2 separate regions of the Homo sapiens genome follow, and region 2 is linked to region 1. The links come from fine-mapping of genetic effects on gene expression. A gene starts in region 1. The other region holds a variant in brackets. All regions are shown on one strand. Distances are from middle to middle. Region 1 holds the start of APOL5 (apolipoprotein L5). Region 2 holds the start of APOL6 (apolipoprotein L6).

Evidence for each region.
Region 2: its variant is fine-mapped to the expression of APOL5 in subcutaneous fat (GTEx, PIP above 0.99). The same link has a PIP of 0.9 or more in breast, left ventricle, thyroid, tibial nerve and visceral fat.

What each region holds. Positions count from the first base shown.
Region 1 is chr22:35,713,519-35,722,028 of GRCh38, forward strand. It overlaps APOL5 (apolipoprotein L5), which reads left to right and starts at 4,354. Exons shown (of 5, transcript NM_030642.1): 1 at 4,354-4,408; 2 at 7,050-7,136. The coding sequence starts at 4,354.
Region 2 is chr22:35,643,401-35,651,910 of GRCh38, forward strand. APOL6 (apolipoprotein L6) reads left to right here and starts at 5,046. Exons shown (of 3, transcript NM_030641.4): 1 at 5,046-5,223. RefSeq lists an enhancer at 4,751-5,050. The variant C/T (reference allele first, on the strand shown) is at 3,539.

The sequences.
Region 1 (8,510 bases):
TTATCTGTTTACGAATTCCCATCTCGGAGTCACCAGGCCTCAGCTCCGTATGGCGCCCCGCCACTCATCGCCTCTCTGAATGACTGTGGGGTCGGTTTTCTTCTTTAGGAGGGGAAGCTGCCTCTCTTCCGGCCTAGGATCCATTGTCATCTGCAGAGAGAGAAGTGCCAAGGGATCCTCAGAGATACCATGACTGCAGCACCAACCAAAATCCACCCAGGTAATCCTCTCCTGTTCAGTAAATTCTCTTGACCCCAGCTCACTGTCCCCACCTACAACGGGAGATGCTAGAGATTATGAAGTGACTTGAGGCACTGGATGTGGCTGATCCTGGGTCCGAAAGTGAAGGTGAGGAACTAAAGTCCCTTTCTTGCCCTATCTCCCATGAGATTCTGCTCACACTCCTCCTACAATTAGAGACCTCTCATCCTGGGTTCCTTAGCTGTGGTGACTGTATTTCATGAACCTCAGATCCAGATACATACTCAAGTCAGAATACAACATCTGTGTTGGCCGGGCGCGGTGGCTCAAGCCTGTAATCCCAGCACTTTGGGAGGTCAAGGCAGGTGGATCACTTGAGGTCAGGAGTTTAAGACCAGCTTGGCCAACATGGTGAAACCCCGTCTCTACTAAAAACACAAAAATTAGCCAGGCGTGGTGGTGCGCACCTGTAATCCCAGCTACTTGGAAGGCTAAGGCAGGAGAATCGCTTGAACCTGGGCGGCGGAGGTTGCAGTGAGCTGAGACCATGCCACTGCATTCCAGCCTGGATGACAGAGCAAGATTCTGTCTCAAAAAAATAAAAATAAATAAAAATCTGCGTTATCCCTCTGGGCCCTGCAACTCTTAATGGGTCCAGTTTTGTGGTCAGTCCAGGCACTGTTATCTGGTTGTGTGGTTGAGAATTCCAGAAGTGCCTAGATTTGTTTTTGGCCCAGCCATGCCTTCTCACTATGTGGCCCTCGAGGGAGATATTAGCATGAGGGACAATGGCAAACAGTAGTAGCAGAAAAGGACAATGCCTCGTTTTACCCTTCTGGCTTGGGGCTGACTCTCCAGAGCAGAGCTCTCTGGCAGAATGGACTGAACTACCTGGCTTAGGTCTACGTGAGCCTCTCCCTGCCTCTAAAACCAGACTCCAAGTTCAGGATCGCTGTGTCCTCCAGCAATGAATGCAGGGTGTCCGACTGAGAAGAGTTGAGAAAGCAAGATAAATGAACTGGGGCCAGTGGATCCCTTCTTCCGTGTTGAGAGAGGAGGCAGGAGAGAGGAGCAAGCTCCTTGCATCTGTGTGTGATCCCTGAGCACAGTGGCCACAGCCTCCACTGAAGGTGGCCTCCTGGGTGTCTTGTAATGGAAACCACTCAGAAGAGTCTAACGCCCTGTTTGGGAGACGTGAGTCAAAGCAGGGGGAGAAGGGTAGTTCTTTCTCGCTCTCAGTGTGATATTCTGAGCTTTCTCATGGAAGATGCATTTTTAAATTATCAGAAATTGATCGATTATGAAATATGATGATTCGTGAAACATCTGTGTACATAATCAAACACAAGATGATGTTGTTTGACCTCTCATCCTATGCATAAAGCACAAAAGTTGCATAGGAGATGAATTTAACTGGAAGGGAACTATGAGCCCATTTCATGGACAGACCCAGAACCTGTCCAGTGGTTCTCCCACTCCCGCTATATGATCATCCTCTGCCTTTGCTGGGTCTCAGCCCTGCTCACTCCCTTCTTGCCTCCTCCCCAAAATAAAGTCTAATAGAGTCATCTCCCAAGATCTATTCTAGCCCAGGACAGCAGGGAGAGCTGAGCAAGATTTTAAACATAAAAAACTTAGTGTCAGCTGGGCGTAGTGGCTCAGGACTTTAATCCCAGCACTTTGAGAGGCTGAGGTGGCCAGATGGATCACCTGAGGCCCAGGAGGTTGACAGCCTGGTCAACATGGTGAAACCCCGTCTCTACTAAGAATGCAAAAATTAGCTGGGCGTGGTGGTGCACACCTATAATCCCAGCTACTCGGGAGACTGAGGCAGGAGAATCGCTTGAACAAGGGAGGCAGAGGTTGCAAAGCCGAGATCGTGCCACTGCACTCCAGCCTGAGCCACAGAGCAAGACTGTGTATCAAAAATTAAATAAATATATACATACATACATAAAAAAACAAAACTTAGTGTCATGAATGATGAGGTCTTATTCTAAGTGTTGTTCTGTATCTGTCATTTACTGGGTATACACAGAGTAGGCAGGAAAGCGCAGATAACACACATCTCTGCCTTCAAGGTGAAGCTCCGGGCTGCCACAATAAACCACTCACTGCATCAGCTGAAACCTCTGCACTGTACCTATCTATGTAGAGCATAGGAAGAGAGCAAAGAAATAAAAAGCAGAATGCCTAAAATAATGGGACAAATCAAAGTTGAATAATTATAACAAAAAATAATTAATATGAATATGAATAACATTAAGAAAAGTATCAAATTGGGTCAAAATCAGATCTGAGTAATTTTCTACATCCAAGAGATAACCTGAAATAAATAGGACACAAAAGGCCAAAATAACAAGTTAGAAAAACTTACATAGAACCAACAAAAAAAGAAAACAATATTAACATTTAACAGTATTAATTTGTCAGATTTTGTCTTACCATGTACTTGGCAGCATTCCCTGCACCAAATGCATTACTGTACAAGTGGGAGATTTTATGATAAAATAATGAATAATAAATCTCATTACTAAAATCTTTTTATTCTATTGGCTTTTTGTTGTTGTTGAGACAGAGTCTCGCTCTGTCACCCAGGCTGAAGTGCAGTGGTGCAATCTCAGCTCACTGCAACCTCCGCCTCCCGGGTTCAAGAGATTCTCCTGCCTCAGCCTCCTGAGTAGCTGGGATTACAGGTGCCCACCACCACGCCTGGCTAATTTTTGTATTTTTAGTAGAGACTTGTTGGCCAGGCTGGTCTCGAACTCCTGATCTCAGGTGATCCACCTGCCTCAGCTTCCCAAAGTGCTGGGATTACAGGCGTGAGCCACCGTGCCTGGCTTCTATTGGCTTTTATTATAAAACTAACAAGTTACTTTGGTAACAAAGCTCAATAATATAGATGAGTGAAAAGTGCAAAAGTATTTTGTCACCCTAGCCCTAAATCTCCCTCCCTGAGCTAAGCCTGTTCACATTTGGTGTATCTCCTTCGAGAATATTCCCCTACTCCTACATCACATATATAGTACTTAAAAAAAATAAGAAAAGAATATAAAGAACATATTCTTCAACCTCTTTTCTTTTACTTAATATATCCTGGACCTCTTTCTAGGTCAGTTGTACATAGATTTGCCTCGTTCCTTTTCACATCCATAAACCTTTATTTTGTATTGCTCTATTTTCATGTAAACAGTCCCCGGCATGGATTTTTCAAATTGTTTCCATTTCTTTATACAACTTCAAATAACTGGATGAACATCCATACACGTTTGTCTGTTGTGTTGTGTTGTGCCGTTGTGTTGTGTCCGTGGTGGGTGTATTTCTAGAGGTGGGATGCTGAGTGTCAGGCACATGTACTTCTCATGTTAAGAGACATCCCAAGAAGGCCAGGTGCAGTGGCTCACACCTGTAATCCTAGCACTTTGGGAGGCCAAGGAGGGTGGATTGTTTGAGCTCAGGAGTTAGAGATTAGCCTGGGCAACATGGTGAATCTCCATCTCTACAAAAAAAAAAAAAATATATATATATATATATATTAGCTGGGTGTGGTGGTGCACACCTGTAGTCCCCGCCACTTGGGGGGCTAAGACAGGAGGATCACTTGAGCCCGGGAGGTTACTGCAGTGAGCCGAGATTGTGTCACTGCACTCCAGCCCAGGTGCCAAAATGAGACCATCTCCAAATGAAAGAAAAAAAAAAAAGAAAGATACCCTAAATCATCCTTCCAAAAGCCATAGCAGCTGAGCGCAGTGGCTCACGCCTGTAATCCCAGCATTTTGAGAGGCCAAGGCGGGCGGATCACCTGAGGTCAGGAGTTTGAGACCAGCCTGGCCATCATGGTGAAACCCTGTCTCTACTAAAAATACAAAAATTAGCCAGGCATGGTGGCAGGCACCTGTAATCCCAGCTACTCAGAAGGCTGAGGCAGAAGAGTCAGTTGAACCTGGGAAGTGGAGGTTGCAGTGACTGAGACTGCACCACTGCACTCCAGCCTGGGCAGCAGAGAGAAGCTCCATCGCAAAAAAAAAAAAAAAGAAAGAAAAGAAAAGAAAAAAAAATAGGTGAGGACTGGGAGAGACAGGTTTCAGGCATGGAGAAGGGAGTCATATTTATTAATCATATTATAAGCTTAAATTTTAAAAAATCTAAAGCATGCCATGTGGCAAACAAGGAAATTTGCAAGTTCCCGGTTCCAAGGTGTTACCTGGTAAGTTCTTTTAAGCTTTCAGAAAACAAGCAATTCTCACGTTGTACAAATTGTCCCAGAAATAGAAAAAATACGTTACACTATTTTTTATACCCACCATATGCTATTGCTGGGTGGAGATATAGCAGATCCTTGGTTTTAATGAGGGAGATATCATGAGACCCTCTCAATTGCTCAGGTTTGAAAATACTACATCAAATAACTTCCTTTGTAAAGTTTAACTAAAAATGTAAAGTTTAACTAAAAACATAAGCAGCTCTTTAAGCCCCTGCTTGAAGCAGTGTGGCAGCGGGGAAGGGGTCAATCACTGGTTCCATTTCTGGTTAAAGTAGAGGCAGCAGGCAGGACAAGGTGGCGACATTATCAAAGAACTCATCTGGATATCAAAACTGTTATGACCCCAAAGCACGGTTGGGCGCAGTGGCTCATGCCTGTAATCCCAACACTTTGGGAGGCCAACATGGGCAGATCACTTGAGGCCAGGAGTTCAAGACCAGCCTGGCCAACATGGTGAAACCCTGTCTCTATTAAAAATACAAAAAATTAGCCAGGCTGGTAGTGCACACCTGTAGTCCCGTTACTCGGGAGGGTGAGGCAGGAGAATTGCTTGAACTGGGAGATCGCGCCATTGCACTGCAGCCTGGACAACAGACAGAGACCCCGTCTCAAAAAAAAAAAAAAAAAAAAAAAAGACGCCAAAGTGCCATGATAAGGGAGTGTTTCTATAAACATGACAATACATCTTCTCTTAAGGAAATAGCATAGAGTCATCAAAAATAATAGTTATAACAACTGTATAGCAAGATGGAAAATACTTGTATAACATTACATTTTAAAAACAGGGCACGTGGCCAGGCACAGCGGCTCATGCCTGTAATCCCAGCACTTTGGGAGGCCAAGGCAGATGTATCACCTGAGGTTGGGAGTTTGAGACCAGCCTGGCCAACATGGTGAAACCCCCATCTCTACTACAAATAGAAAACTTATCCAGGCATGGTGGTGCGCACCTATAATTGCAACAACTCGGGAGGCTGAGACAGGAGAATCACTTGAACCCAGGAGGCGCAGGTTGCAGTGAGCCGAGATCGCACCACTGCATTCCAGCCTGGGTGACAGTGAGACCGTCTCAAAAATAATAATAATAATAAATAATAATAATAAATAAAAACAGGACACACCATTATAAGTATAAAAGCCATGCGAAAAATAATACGGATTTGAAAAATAACGGGAAGTAGAGAATGAAATCAATAGTTATGTTGCAGGAGAACTAGGGGTGATTTTTGTCAAATTATATTTTTTGTCAAATTTGACTATCTTTTTGTCAAATTATATTGAAAATACATTTAAAGTGATTTTTGAGCAACAAAAGAAGCTGCAATGTGAGAGAGAGTGTCTGAACAAGGTGGACTCTGCTGTGTTGCCTGCCTGGGTAAAACCAACCACCATCCCGCCCACGAGCCTTGTCATCAGGCAGGTGTCATTCAGCAGGGACTGGACTGTGCCTCTCTCAGGGCTATAGATGATAGGCACTGGACAGAATGAGCGTTCACTTGCTCCCAAGTTAAAAATGTTATCAATTAACATGGCCCCGATTGTCTTGGTGCCTATCATTGTGTTGTTGGATGATTCTCAGAAGACTTTTGTGACTTAACGAAATGGGAAAAGTTCCCTTATCCCCCTTGCACAGTATAAAACGGGGTGTGGCTCACTTCTTCGGTGCCCTGCGGCTCAAACCCCTAGGGGGAGCATGCGGACCGGCAGGTCTTGGGGAGCGTGGGCTCCGACCCCACAGCAGCCCCATCTAGGGTTGAGTGTTTGCAGCTCCCGAGCCCCAGTGAGCTTATCGGAAGGACAAAGCAGAGGGTCTAATTTCTGTACTCCAGGGTTCTAACCCTAGTATGCCAGAAAAATTGGATCACACGTGGGCTTGGAGAGTGAGTGCAAGGTTTTATCGAGTGTAGTTCTCAGCAGATGGATGGGGAGCCAGAAAGGGGATGGAGTGGGAAGGTGGTCTTCCCCTGGATTTGGGCCACTCAGCGGTTCTCCTCCAACTGCCTTTGGCTAAATTCCATGTCATTCAGCCGTGGATGACCTGTCAGCATCCGCCGGTGTATTCTTCTTCCTGTGTGTTCCTCTCGATGTCCAGCTACTTGTGTGTGTCTGCCTGTTAGGTGGGGATATGGCGGGCCAGAGTGGTCTTAGAAAATGCAGCATTTGGGAGCGAAAGCAGAAATGCTTGTCCTCACTTAGATCCATGGGCCCAGGCCCGAGGGTGGAACCCTCACCGGGGACCATGCCTTTATGTAAGCAGCACTTCCCTGCCTGCTCCCATATCATTAACGTATAACGTCAACATTTCAAAAGTGCTTTACCAATCTACTTTGCCACTAGAAGCCTAAGCGATTTCCAGTTTTATTGCATCCTAGTCAACCTTGGGCATTCCCATGGTTTGTTTGTTTAAAATCATTAGACAAAAATCATGTGACATTTCTGAGACATTAAGATTTTTGTTGTATTCTTTTTTTTTTCTAATTCTCCAATATTGTAATTAGACAGCCAACTTTCCCGGAGCACTGTTATGTCTTTTCGGGCTGAGATGACTCAAGAAGAAATGTCCCTGATCCTTGTCCATCTCCAGGCTTGGGAGAAGGTTGTAAAGAAATGTGGCTTCGAAAGGTAATCTACGGAGGTGAGGTCTGGGGGAAGTCCCCAGAACCTGAGTTCCGTGAGGGCAGAGAACAGGCTGTTATGCTTATGGCCACAATCCCAGCATCCAAAACAGTGTCTGTCACAGACCCAGCACTCAATGAGTATTTGGGTTTTGTTTTGTTTTGAGACAGAGTCTCTTCTCTGTTGCCCAGGTTGGAGTGCAGTGGCACGATCTCGGCTCACTGCAACCTCTGCCTCCCAGGTTCAAGTGATTCTCCTGCCTCAGCCTCACGAGTAGCTGGGATTACAGGCGCCCGCCACCACGCCCGGCTAATTTTTATATTTTTTGTAGAGATGGAGTTTCCCCATGTTGGCCAGGCTGGTCTTGAACTCCTGATCTCAAATGCTCCACCCGCCTCGGCCTCCCAATGTGCTGGGATTAGAGGTGTGAGCCACCGTGCCCAGCTGTCAATAAGTATTTGAATGAAGGAATAAAATCTGATTGTTAATATCCAGATCTGTAGCCACCTTCATAGGATGAAACATACAAATGGGTTCCAACCAAGTTGGCTGAAGTGTTGCTCATGTTGTCTCATGTGCAATTGGAGATATGCAAAAAAGATAAAATGTACACATCCGCATAAAAAATATCTTAGTAAAAAAAATGTAAAACCTTTGGTAAGGGCAGGCACGGTGGCTCACGCTTGAAATCCTAGCACTTTGGGAGGCCAAGGTGGGCGGATCGCTTGAGGTCAGGAGTTCAAGGACAGATTGGCCAACATGGTGAAACGTCATTTCCACTAAAAATACAGAAATTAGCTAGGTGTGGTGGAGCATGCCTGTAATCCCAGCTACATGGGAGGCTGAGGCAGGAGAATTGCTTGAACCCGGGAGGCGGAGGTTGCAGTGAGCCAAGATTGCACCACTACTGCACTCTAGCCTGGGCGACAGAGCAGGGCTTCATTTAAAAAAAAAAAATCCTTTGGTAATGGTAAGTACATTGGTATACTGATAGATGCCCAGACACATGGCTTAGAGGGCAATGGAATCCTAGAAGCAGAATTTGCTGGTTTTCTCCCAATCCAGGAATATTCCTTCCTGGGTCTGCCTTCACCCTTTCCCAACCCATGATAATGTCTGAGTCTTGCCTTGAGATCCAAGCTCCTGGGACTTCCCTTTCCGTTGCCTTGGCCTGGGCATTCAGACTCTCCCACAGAGCTCAGCTGCAGCAATAGACTCACAACAAACTCTGCTGCCTAACAGAGGTTGCACTTAACTCTTGCCAAAGTGTCCATAAGGTTCTCTAAAGTGGGTTGCAATGCTCCCGCAATTTATAGCAACCAAATGCCTAAAGATAAAATCTTCATGCGTCATGCAAATGGGTTGCCTGCGCTTTCAGACACAGGTACAGTTATTGACTTCTCTGTGTCCTTGGCCCAGCCTCCCTCTA
Region 2 (8,510 bases), 70 kb before region 1:
GGAGCTGCCTGAAACCTTCTGGGTTTTCCTTTGATTCTGTGAACAGGTCAGTAGCTCTCGAGCATTCTATCTGTGACCCATTTCACAGTGCAATCCATAACACACACACACACACACACACACACGTAAGTGTGTGCATCATCACTATATGGACATAATTTCCATGAAACACTACTTATACCCTTATTATGTATGATATACTCTGATATTTTTTACTTTATCTCATTTCATTTTCTTTCTTTCTGTCTGTCTTTTTTTTTTTTTTTGAGATGGTCTGTCTCCCAGGCTGGAGTGCAGTGGCACAATCTCGATCACAGCTCACTGCAGGCTCAACCTCCTGGGCTCAAGTGATCCTCCCACCTCAGCACCCCCCATCCCCCATCCCCTCAACACACACACCAGTCTCTAGGACCATAGGCGCACCACCACACCCGGCTAATTTTTGCATTTTTTTGTGGAGACAAGGTTTCACCATGTTACCCAAACTGGTCTGACTCCTAGGCTCAGGCAATCCTCCAGCCTCAGCCTCCTAAAATGCTGGGATTACAGGCATGAGCCACCATGTCCAACCTCATTTCCCTTTATTATTTCTTGAGACCCACTAAGCTGATTTCATGACACTGTAAATTGTGACTTGCAGTATAAGAACAACCAAGCTGGATAAATGGCTTCCTTGTTTTTGCTTACACTGCTCCAAGATGATGTGTCACTTGCAACCTGCTAACCAAAATGCCAACTAACCTTGCCTCTTGCACAACCTGTACCTCCTGTTCCAGCCCCTGCCCACCTCCACCCCACCCCTGGCCAGGCTACCACAAGGAGAGCAGTTTGCAAACTCACTGATCATTCAGCCACAGAGCAGAGATGTGGACTTCTGTGATGTGTTTTAGTGCAAAGAACTGGAGGTAGACACATTTGGGTTCTACGCCTAACCCTAGTCATGTCAGACACTGTGATCTTGGATGAGGTCCTTGGACCCATGAACATCAGTCTTGGCAGCTATATATTGGGCTTGTGCTCCCTGCTTCATAGAAGGAGCATATGGATAAAATGCGATGATGAGTGAAATATTCCGAGCACGTGCTCCACATGTAACATTCTGCACATGGAAGTTCCCATCCCTCCAACCCAGGATGCCAGACATCTTCATTTTTAATCCAGGGTAGAAAGAAAGAGACATCCCCTCTCTCGCTCTCTCAGATCTCTCATGAAAGATGAATCCTTGGGGCTGGGCGCGGTGACTCATGCCTGTAATCCCAGCACTTTCGGAGGCCGAGGCGGGTGGATCACCTGAGGTCAGAAGTTCAAGACCAGCCTGGTCAACATGGTGAAACCCCGTCTCTACTAAATATACAAAAAAAATAGCCGGGGGTGGTGGTGGGCGCCTGTAATCCCAGCTACTCAGGAGGCTGAGGCAGGAGAATCGCTTGAACCAGGGAGGCGGATGTTGCACTGAGCCGATATCGTGCCATTGCACTCCAGCCTGGGCAACAAGAGTGAAACGTTGTCTCAAAAAAAAAAAAAAAAAAAAAAAGATGAGTCCTGTGTATACAAAAATGGTAATGATGGCCAGAGCACCTGGTGCGTGCATCAACCTTTACCATTGTCAAGATAACTCATTCCGCTGGGCATGATAGCTAACACCTATAATCCCAGAACTTTGGGAGGCCAAGGCGGGTGAATCACCTGAGGTCAGGAGTTCAAGACCAGCCTGGCCAACATGGCAAAACCCCATCTCTACTGAAAATACAAAAATTAGCCAGGCGTATTAGCACATGCCTGTAATCCCAGCTACTTGGAGACTGAGACAGGAGAATTGCTTGAACCTAGGAGGCAGAGGTTGCAGTGAGCCGAGATCGCACCACTGCACTCCAGCCTGGGCGACAGAGCGAGACTGTCTCAAAAAAACAAAACAAAACAAAAAACAAACGAACAAAAACCTTCCTCACAAGAACCCCGGGAAGGAGATGGGATGGAAGTGGGTGAGGGTTAGTTGCTGTACGCCAAGCAACAAGGGTGTGGCCATGCGAGGCCTGGCCCTTTTGGTGGTCCTGGGTTCAAGTTCAGTGCTCCACTCTCCCCTTGTAATGGCTGCTTCCCTGCTTCGCTCTGGCCTGGGCTCCCAGGATCCTGAAACTGCTTCCAGGCAAAGCAATGGAGGCCACGATAGAACTTTTGCTACATTTGGCAAATTGCAGTCTCAGGGCAGCATTTGCTCAAACTCTAGGCAACCTCCGCCTCCTAGGTTCAAACTCTCCCTAAATGCTGTAGCCAGAGAGAAGAAAAGAAATTTCTAGAATCCAAGAATTTCAGGGTCAAAGTGTGCTTCAAGGCCTTTCCCCCATCCCAGGACGGATGGTCCCTGCCTGTGCCAGGGGCCACTGGGCCGAGGCGTGATGAGCTCTCTGGGAGGCAGACAGCCTGAGCCCAGAGTGGGTTGGTTGTGGCTGCAACACAGAAAACCTGCAGCTCCTCAGAGAGGTGCCAAGGCAAACCAGAACCCAGGTGTCCAGGAGCCAGCAATGCCTGCTGGAAGGGTCACAAAGGACCCTCTTTGTGGGCCAGTGGAACCCCAGAGGGCCAGCACAAGCCCCTGCCCCCAGGTGCCATCTCCGAGGCATGCAAATTTCTTTCTTTTTTTTTTTTTTTTTTTTTGAGACAGGGTCTTGCTCTGTCACCCAGACTGGAGTGCAGTGGTGCAATCTCAGCTCACTGCAGCCTCAATGAGAGGCAAACTTTTCAGAAAACATAAAAAGCCCTGATAGAAAATTTGAACTTAAATTGCCTGAACATTCACCCCCAAATGAGAGACTTTACCCAAAGATGTGTGTGTGTGTGTGTGTGTGTGTGTGTTTGTTTGTTTGTTTTTTTGAGACAGAGTCTCGCTCTGTCGCCCAGGCTGGAGTGCAGTGGCACAATCTCGGCTCACTGCAACCTCCACCTCCCAGGTTCAAGCGATTCTCCTGCCTCAGCCTCCCGAGTAGCTGGGATTACAGGTGCCCGCCACCACACATAGCTAATTTTTGTATTTTTAGTAGAGACAGGGTTTCACCATGTTGGTCAGGCTGGCCTCAAACTCCTGACCTCAAGCGATCCACCTGCCTCAGCCTCCCAAAGTGCTGGCATTACAGGCGTGAGCCACCGCGCCCGGTCCGAGAGTGTGTTTTAAATCACAAGAGACTAAGGGGCCTTCAGGCAAGTTTGTTTCTTTTCAGCAGGTCTTGGGTCCCTTGAGGGAAGGGAAGTGGACTCTAGGAAATTAAGCGACTCCCTACTTTTGTTCATCTGAGCTATAGGGTGGATGTTTTCTGTCCCCTTACATAAGCAGCACTTCCTGCATTTGGCTACAGAACATTTTTCTCACATGGCATCTCTTGGGGCGATTGTTTCACAAGAGCCCTGGTGGTAAACACTGCCCCCATCCAATGGCCGGTCTGGCCCCTGAGACTCCCAGGACCGAGCAGTGACCACAACATCTGGGTCCGTTGCCAGGGAAAACAACAGGCAGGCCTGGGATGGCTCAGCGGCCCCAGCCAGG[C/T]AGCCAAGTCCTCCTCAAGGTCAGGCTGTGTTTAGCGTGTTCCCCAAGTGTGGGAGGCCAGGAGCAGGGGTGGGTTGTGGAATCCGGGATGCCACGGTTGGAAAGGCCCCTACAAGACCCAACTCAGCAGCCCTTAACCCCTCATTCCTGCTCGTAGGGCCCAGGGACAGGAGGTGGCCTCTATCACAGCAAAGCCAGGACTGGCTAGGTGGGCCGCACCTTCTGCAAAGCAACAGCCTCCAATGTGGTCTCAGCTAGGGGTGGTGACTGGGGACTTCTGGGCATATAAATACAAACAAACCACATGGCTTCTGATCACAATTTGACACAAATGCTAGAGAGACACAGATCTCAGCCCGTAACCTCACTGTGGGCTCATTCTTGTAGACACAGAGCCTAGGACTGGTTCTTAGCTGTGTAATCACAAACAACCCACAACTTCTAGAAGCCTGGGTTTCCTCTTCCTTAAAGTGGGAGACAGAGTATCACAATCCTATATCTCCAATCCTTGAGGCCAGATGCATGTCAGAGTTCCTGATTTGGGGGATTTTTAGAAAGGTAATGGGGTGCAGGTATCGTGTACTATGTAACCCACGCACCCGCAGCAGCCCTCCTCAGTCAAACATATTAATATTTCTGCAGTGACTGTAAATATTCAAATTAAGCAGGAGACATAAAAACCACAGGTGAATTCATGCCAGATCAGGTCAGGTTTTGCCACTAAATGAATAAATTATCATTTTTTTTTAAGTTTTCATTCTGAGGCCAGGTGCGGTGGCTCACGCCTGTAATCCCAGCACTTTGGGAGGCCTAGATGGATGGATCATTTGAGGTCAGCAGTTTGAGACCAGCCTGGCCAACATGGCAAAACCCCATCTCTACTAAAAATACAAAAATCAGCCGGGCGTGGTGGCAGGTGCCTGTAATCTCAGCTACTAGGGAGGCTGAGACAGGGGAATAGCTTGAACGTAGGAGGCGGAGGTTGCAGTGAGCCGAGATCGTGCCATTGCACTCCAGCCTGGGCAACAGAGCGAGACTTCATCTCAAAAAACAATAATAATAATAATAATAAAATAAAGTTTCCATTTTCAGAGGATTCTGCATTCAGAGTTATTAGCCCTTTAATGCTGTGCACCTCATAGGGTTGTTACCCACATCAGCGTCACGTAAGATGCTGTGGAGGAAAGCAGTTTCAGAACAATCAGTGATGACAGCTACTGTGAATCCACTATTCAACAGGCGCCCCATCGCTTGCTCATGGGCTCCTCACCATAGCTCTAAGCCACAGGAGCTATTTTCATACCCCATATAGGTCCATCCTATAACACAGCCAGGACAGAGACGAGAGACTCAGGCCTCCTGACTTGGATTCTGCTCTTTCACCTCCTTGTTCATCCAATTAGAGAAACTGGCAAAAAGGAAACTGAAAGTGACAGCTGGAGCCCATGATTTCCTGGAAGAGCCCTAGAGCTTTGCTTTTTCTCTCCTGCAGCACTTAACCGAAACCAGTTTTGCAATCAATTCCTGTTCAAAGGCCACCCTACTCTTCCTATCCGTCTTTCTCCAGCCCAGACACTCACAGCCCCCTGCCAGACCAGGGGACCTCGGAGAGGCAAGGACAGAGGTTCAGGATCTTCCTCTCCCTCGGGACCCAAGGCCACAAAGGAGAGCTCCGTGGAGAGAAGGTGAGACGGCGGGCAGAAGTCGGGGGAGGAGGGGGCTGCCGCTCTGGTCCCTGAAGGACAGAGCCCCCAAGGGGTTGGCTTTAGGCACCTGACTCAGGGAAAAGAGCTGCTGTGAAAGCAGCGGGGTTCAAATGCCAGCCAGAGCTTGAGGAGAGTCTGAGGATTAACTTCTCCTGTGTTAATCCTGGTAGGTTTCCCTCCCTTACAGCCATTTCAGGGTTAAATTGAAACATGCTAAAGCATGCGATGTGACTAGCCAAGTTGCATTTGTCCCTCCACTGCTGGGGATCCGAGGGCTTAGGCAGAGGGGACCTGGCCCTTAGAAAGCAGATGATTACATCAGCCACAGGCGTTTCCCTAGAAATTCAGTAGAGGAGTGGTTTAGGGGTGTCATCTCACAAGAAAAAAGGTGCTGGGTGAGTTGTCTAGAAACTGCAAAGCCAACCTACAGAGTTTTCTAGATTGTAGATTTATGTGAAGTTGTTTGGGGAAGAGGGTGAGGGAGTTTGTGATAAATATTAGGGCGACTAGGCCAGGCGCAGTGGCTCATGCCTGTAATCCCAGCATTTTGGGAGGCTAAGGCAAGCGGATTGCTTGAGCCCAAGAGTTTGAGACCAGCATGGGCAACATAGTGAGACCCCGTCTCTACAAAAAATCAAAAAATAGCTGGGCGTGATGGTGCACACCTGTAGTCCCAGCTACTTGGGAGGGTGCTGAGGTGGAAGGATCACTTGAACCCAGGAAGTCAAGAATGCAGTGAGCAGTGATCGCACCACTGCACTCCAGCCTGGGCAACAGAGTGAGACCCGGTCTCAAAAAAAAAAAAAAAAATCTAGGGAGGTTATCTTGAAGCTGTGTTTTCAAAGTAAGCAGATTTTTCTTACTTAGATTGTGTATCTGCAGAAGTTGGTTTTGTGGGGGAAGGCAGGTAAGGAAAGACTGTCATAAATATCCTGTAAGCTTTCAAATGAAAGTAAGTTCTCAAATCCTCTTCCAATAAACCTCTCACAAGCAAATCCTCTCGCAACCACCAAGAGCAGGTCAGAGGGGATGGAATGGGACCTGCTTAGATGAGTTTCCTGCTGTTACCTTTGCCCTGCATCCCATAGGACTAATGTAAAAAAATGAGAGAGGTATTGGCGGACGCTGGTAAAAAATGGGGTTCCAGACCAGAGTCTCTTACCCCCAGCAACCTTGTCATGTTCAACCAGGTGATCCCTGGTTGTGGGGGCTGTCCTCTGCATCGTAGGGTGCTTGGCAGCATCCCTGGCCTCTGCCCTCTACATACCAACAGCAGTACCCTCTCCAGCTGAGACCATCAAAAATGTTTCCAGATATTAGCAGTGTCCCTGAGGAGCAAACACGCCCTGTTTGGGACCAACTACTCCAGACTCTGCGTGGCTGGAATTGCACAGGCTTTCCTGCTTACTGTGTGACACTGGCCTCCCTATGTCTCAGTTTGCACCTCTGTAAAATGGGCATCATCTTAGCACCGATCTCACTGGGTCACTGTGTAAAGCAGGTAGATGTATGTCTGGTGAAAGTAAACTCTTAAAGGTGCCAAGCCCCCTAAACCAAACCTAGCTTCACATACCAAAGAGGGGAGAAGGTTTTTATCTTTGAAGCATTCATTCTTTTTCATAGACTACCCCAAAGAAATAACCAAACATGTAGACAGACGTCTATATAAGGATTTTAACCAAAAATTATAAATACAAAATTTTAAAATAACTGAAAACAACCCAAAGGTTCAACAGTGAGAGAGTTATTGAATGTGTAATGATACATTCGTAAAATGAAATGCGACATGGCTTCTATGTATCGCCTGGGGAACTACTAAGATACAATGTTAGGTGACAAGAATTCACACAAACTACATGAACAGCATGCATTTCCATATGGTGAGCGTAAGGTGGATTTTATAATTTATTTCTAAATTTTCAACCTTAAACTTGTATTCATGGCTATAAGTGAATGAATGAATGAATGGCTATAAATGAATGGCTATAAAAATTTGTGTCCTGGGCTGGGCATGGTGGCTCATGCCTGTAATCCCAGCACTTTGGGAGCCCGAGGTGGGTGGATCACCTGAGGTCAGGAGTTCAAGACCAGCCTGGCCAACCTTGTGAAACCCCATCTCTACTAAAAATACAAAAATTAGCCGGGTGTGTTAGTACGTGCCTGTAATCCCAGCTACTTGGTAGGCTGAAGCAGGAGAATCGCTTGAATCTGGGAGGTGGAGGTTGCAGTGAGCCAAGATCATGCCATTGTACTCCAGCCCGGGCAACAAGAGCAAAATTCAGTCTCAAAAAAAAAAAAAAATTTTTTTAAAAATAAAGAATTTGTGTCCCTTCAGAGTGTGTGAGGGAGGATGTTTTTTTCTAACTTTTTAGAAGTGGAAGGGAAGAGGATGAGAGAAGGGAGGATGAGCTGAGGGAGAAGCTATATCTAGGAAACAGCATTTCTGCCGTAAGCGCTGGACCAAGTACCAAATGTAGAGAAGAGATGCAAAGGAATGTATTGGCTTCCCTAGGGCTGCTGTCAGAAAGCACCACAAACCAGGTGGCTTCAAACAACAGACATTTAGTGTCTCACAGTTCTGGAGGCTGGAAGTCAAAAATCCCAGTGCCAGTAGGGCGCACTTCTGCTGCAGGCTCCAGGGAGACCATCTGTGCCTTTTGCAGCCTCGGTGGCTTCTGACAGCACGACTCTAATTTCTGCCTCTGTCTGCGTGCAGCCTTCTTTGCTGTGTCTCTCTCTGTCACCTCCTCTTCTTATAATGACATCAGTGATGGATTTCAGGGCCACCCTGAATCCAGGATAATTTCACCCGGAGAAATGTATACATGTGCCATGTTGGTGTGCTGCACCCATTAACTCATCATTTAACATTAGGTATAACTCCTAATGCTATCCCTCCCCACTCCCCCCACCCCACAACAGGCCCCGGTGTGTGACGTTCCCCTTCCTGTGTCCATGTGTTCTCATTGTTCAATTCCCACCTAGGAGTGAGAACATGCGGTGTTTGGTTTTTTGTCCTTGCGATAGTTTGCTGAGAATGATGGTTTCCAGCTTCATCCATGTCCCTACAAAGGACACGAACTCATCCTTTTTTATGGCTGCATAGTATTCCATGGTGTATATGTGCCACATTTTCTTAATCCAGTCTAGCATTGTTGGACATTTGGCTTGGTTCCAAGTCTTTGCTATTGTGAATAGTGCCGCAATAAACATATGTGTGCATGTGTTTTTATAGAAGCATGTTTTATAATCCTTTGAGTATATAC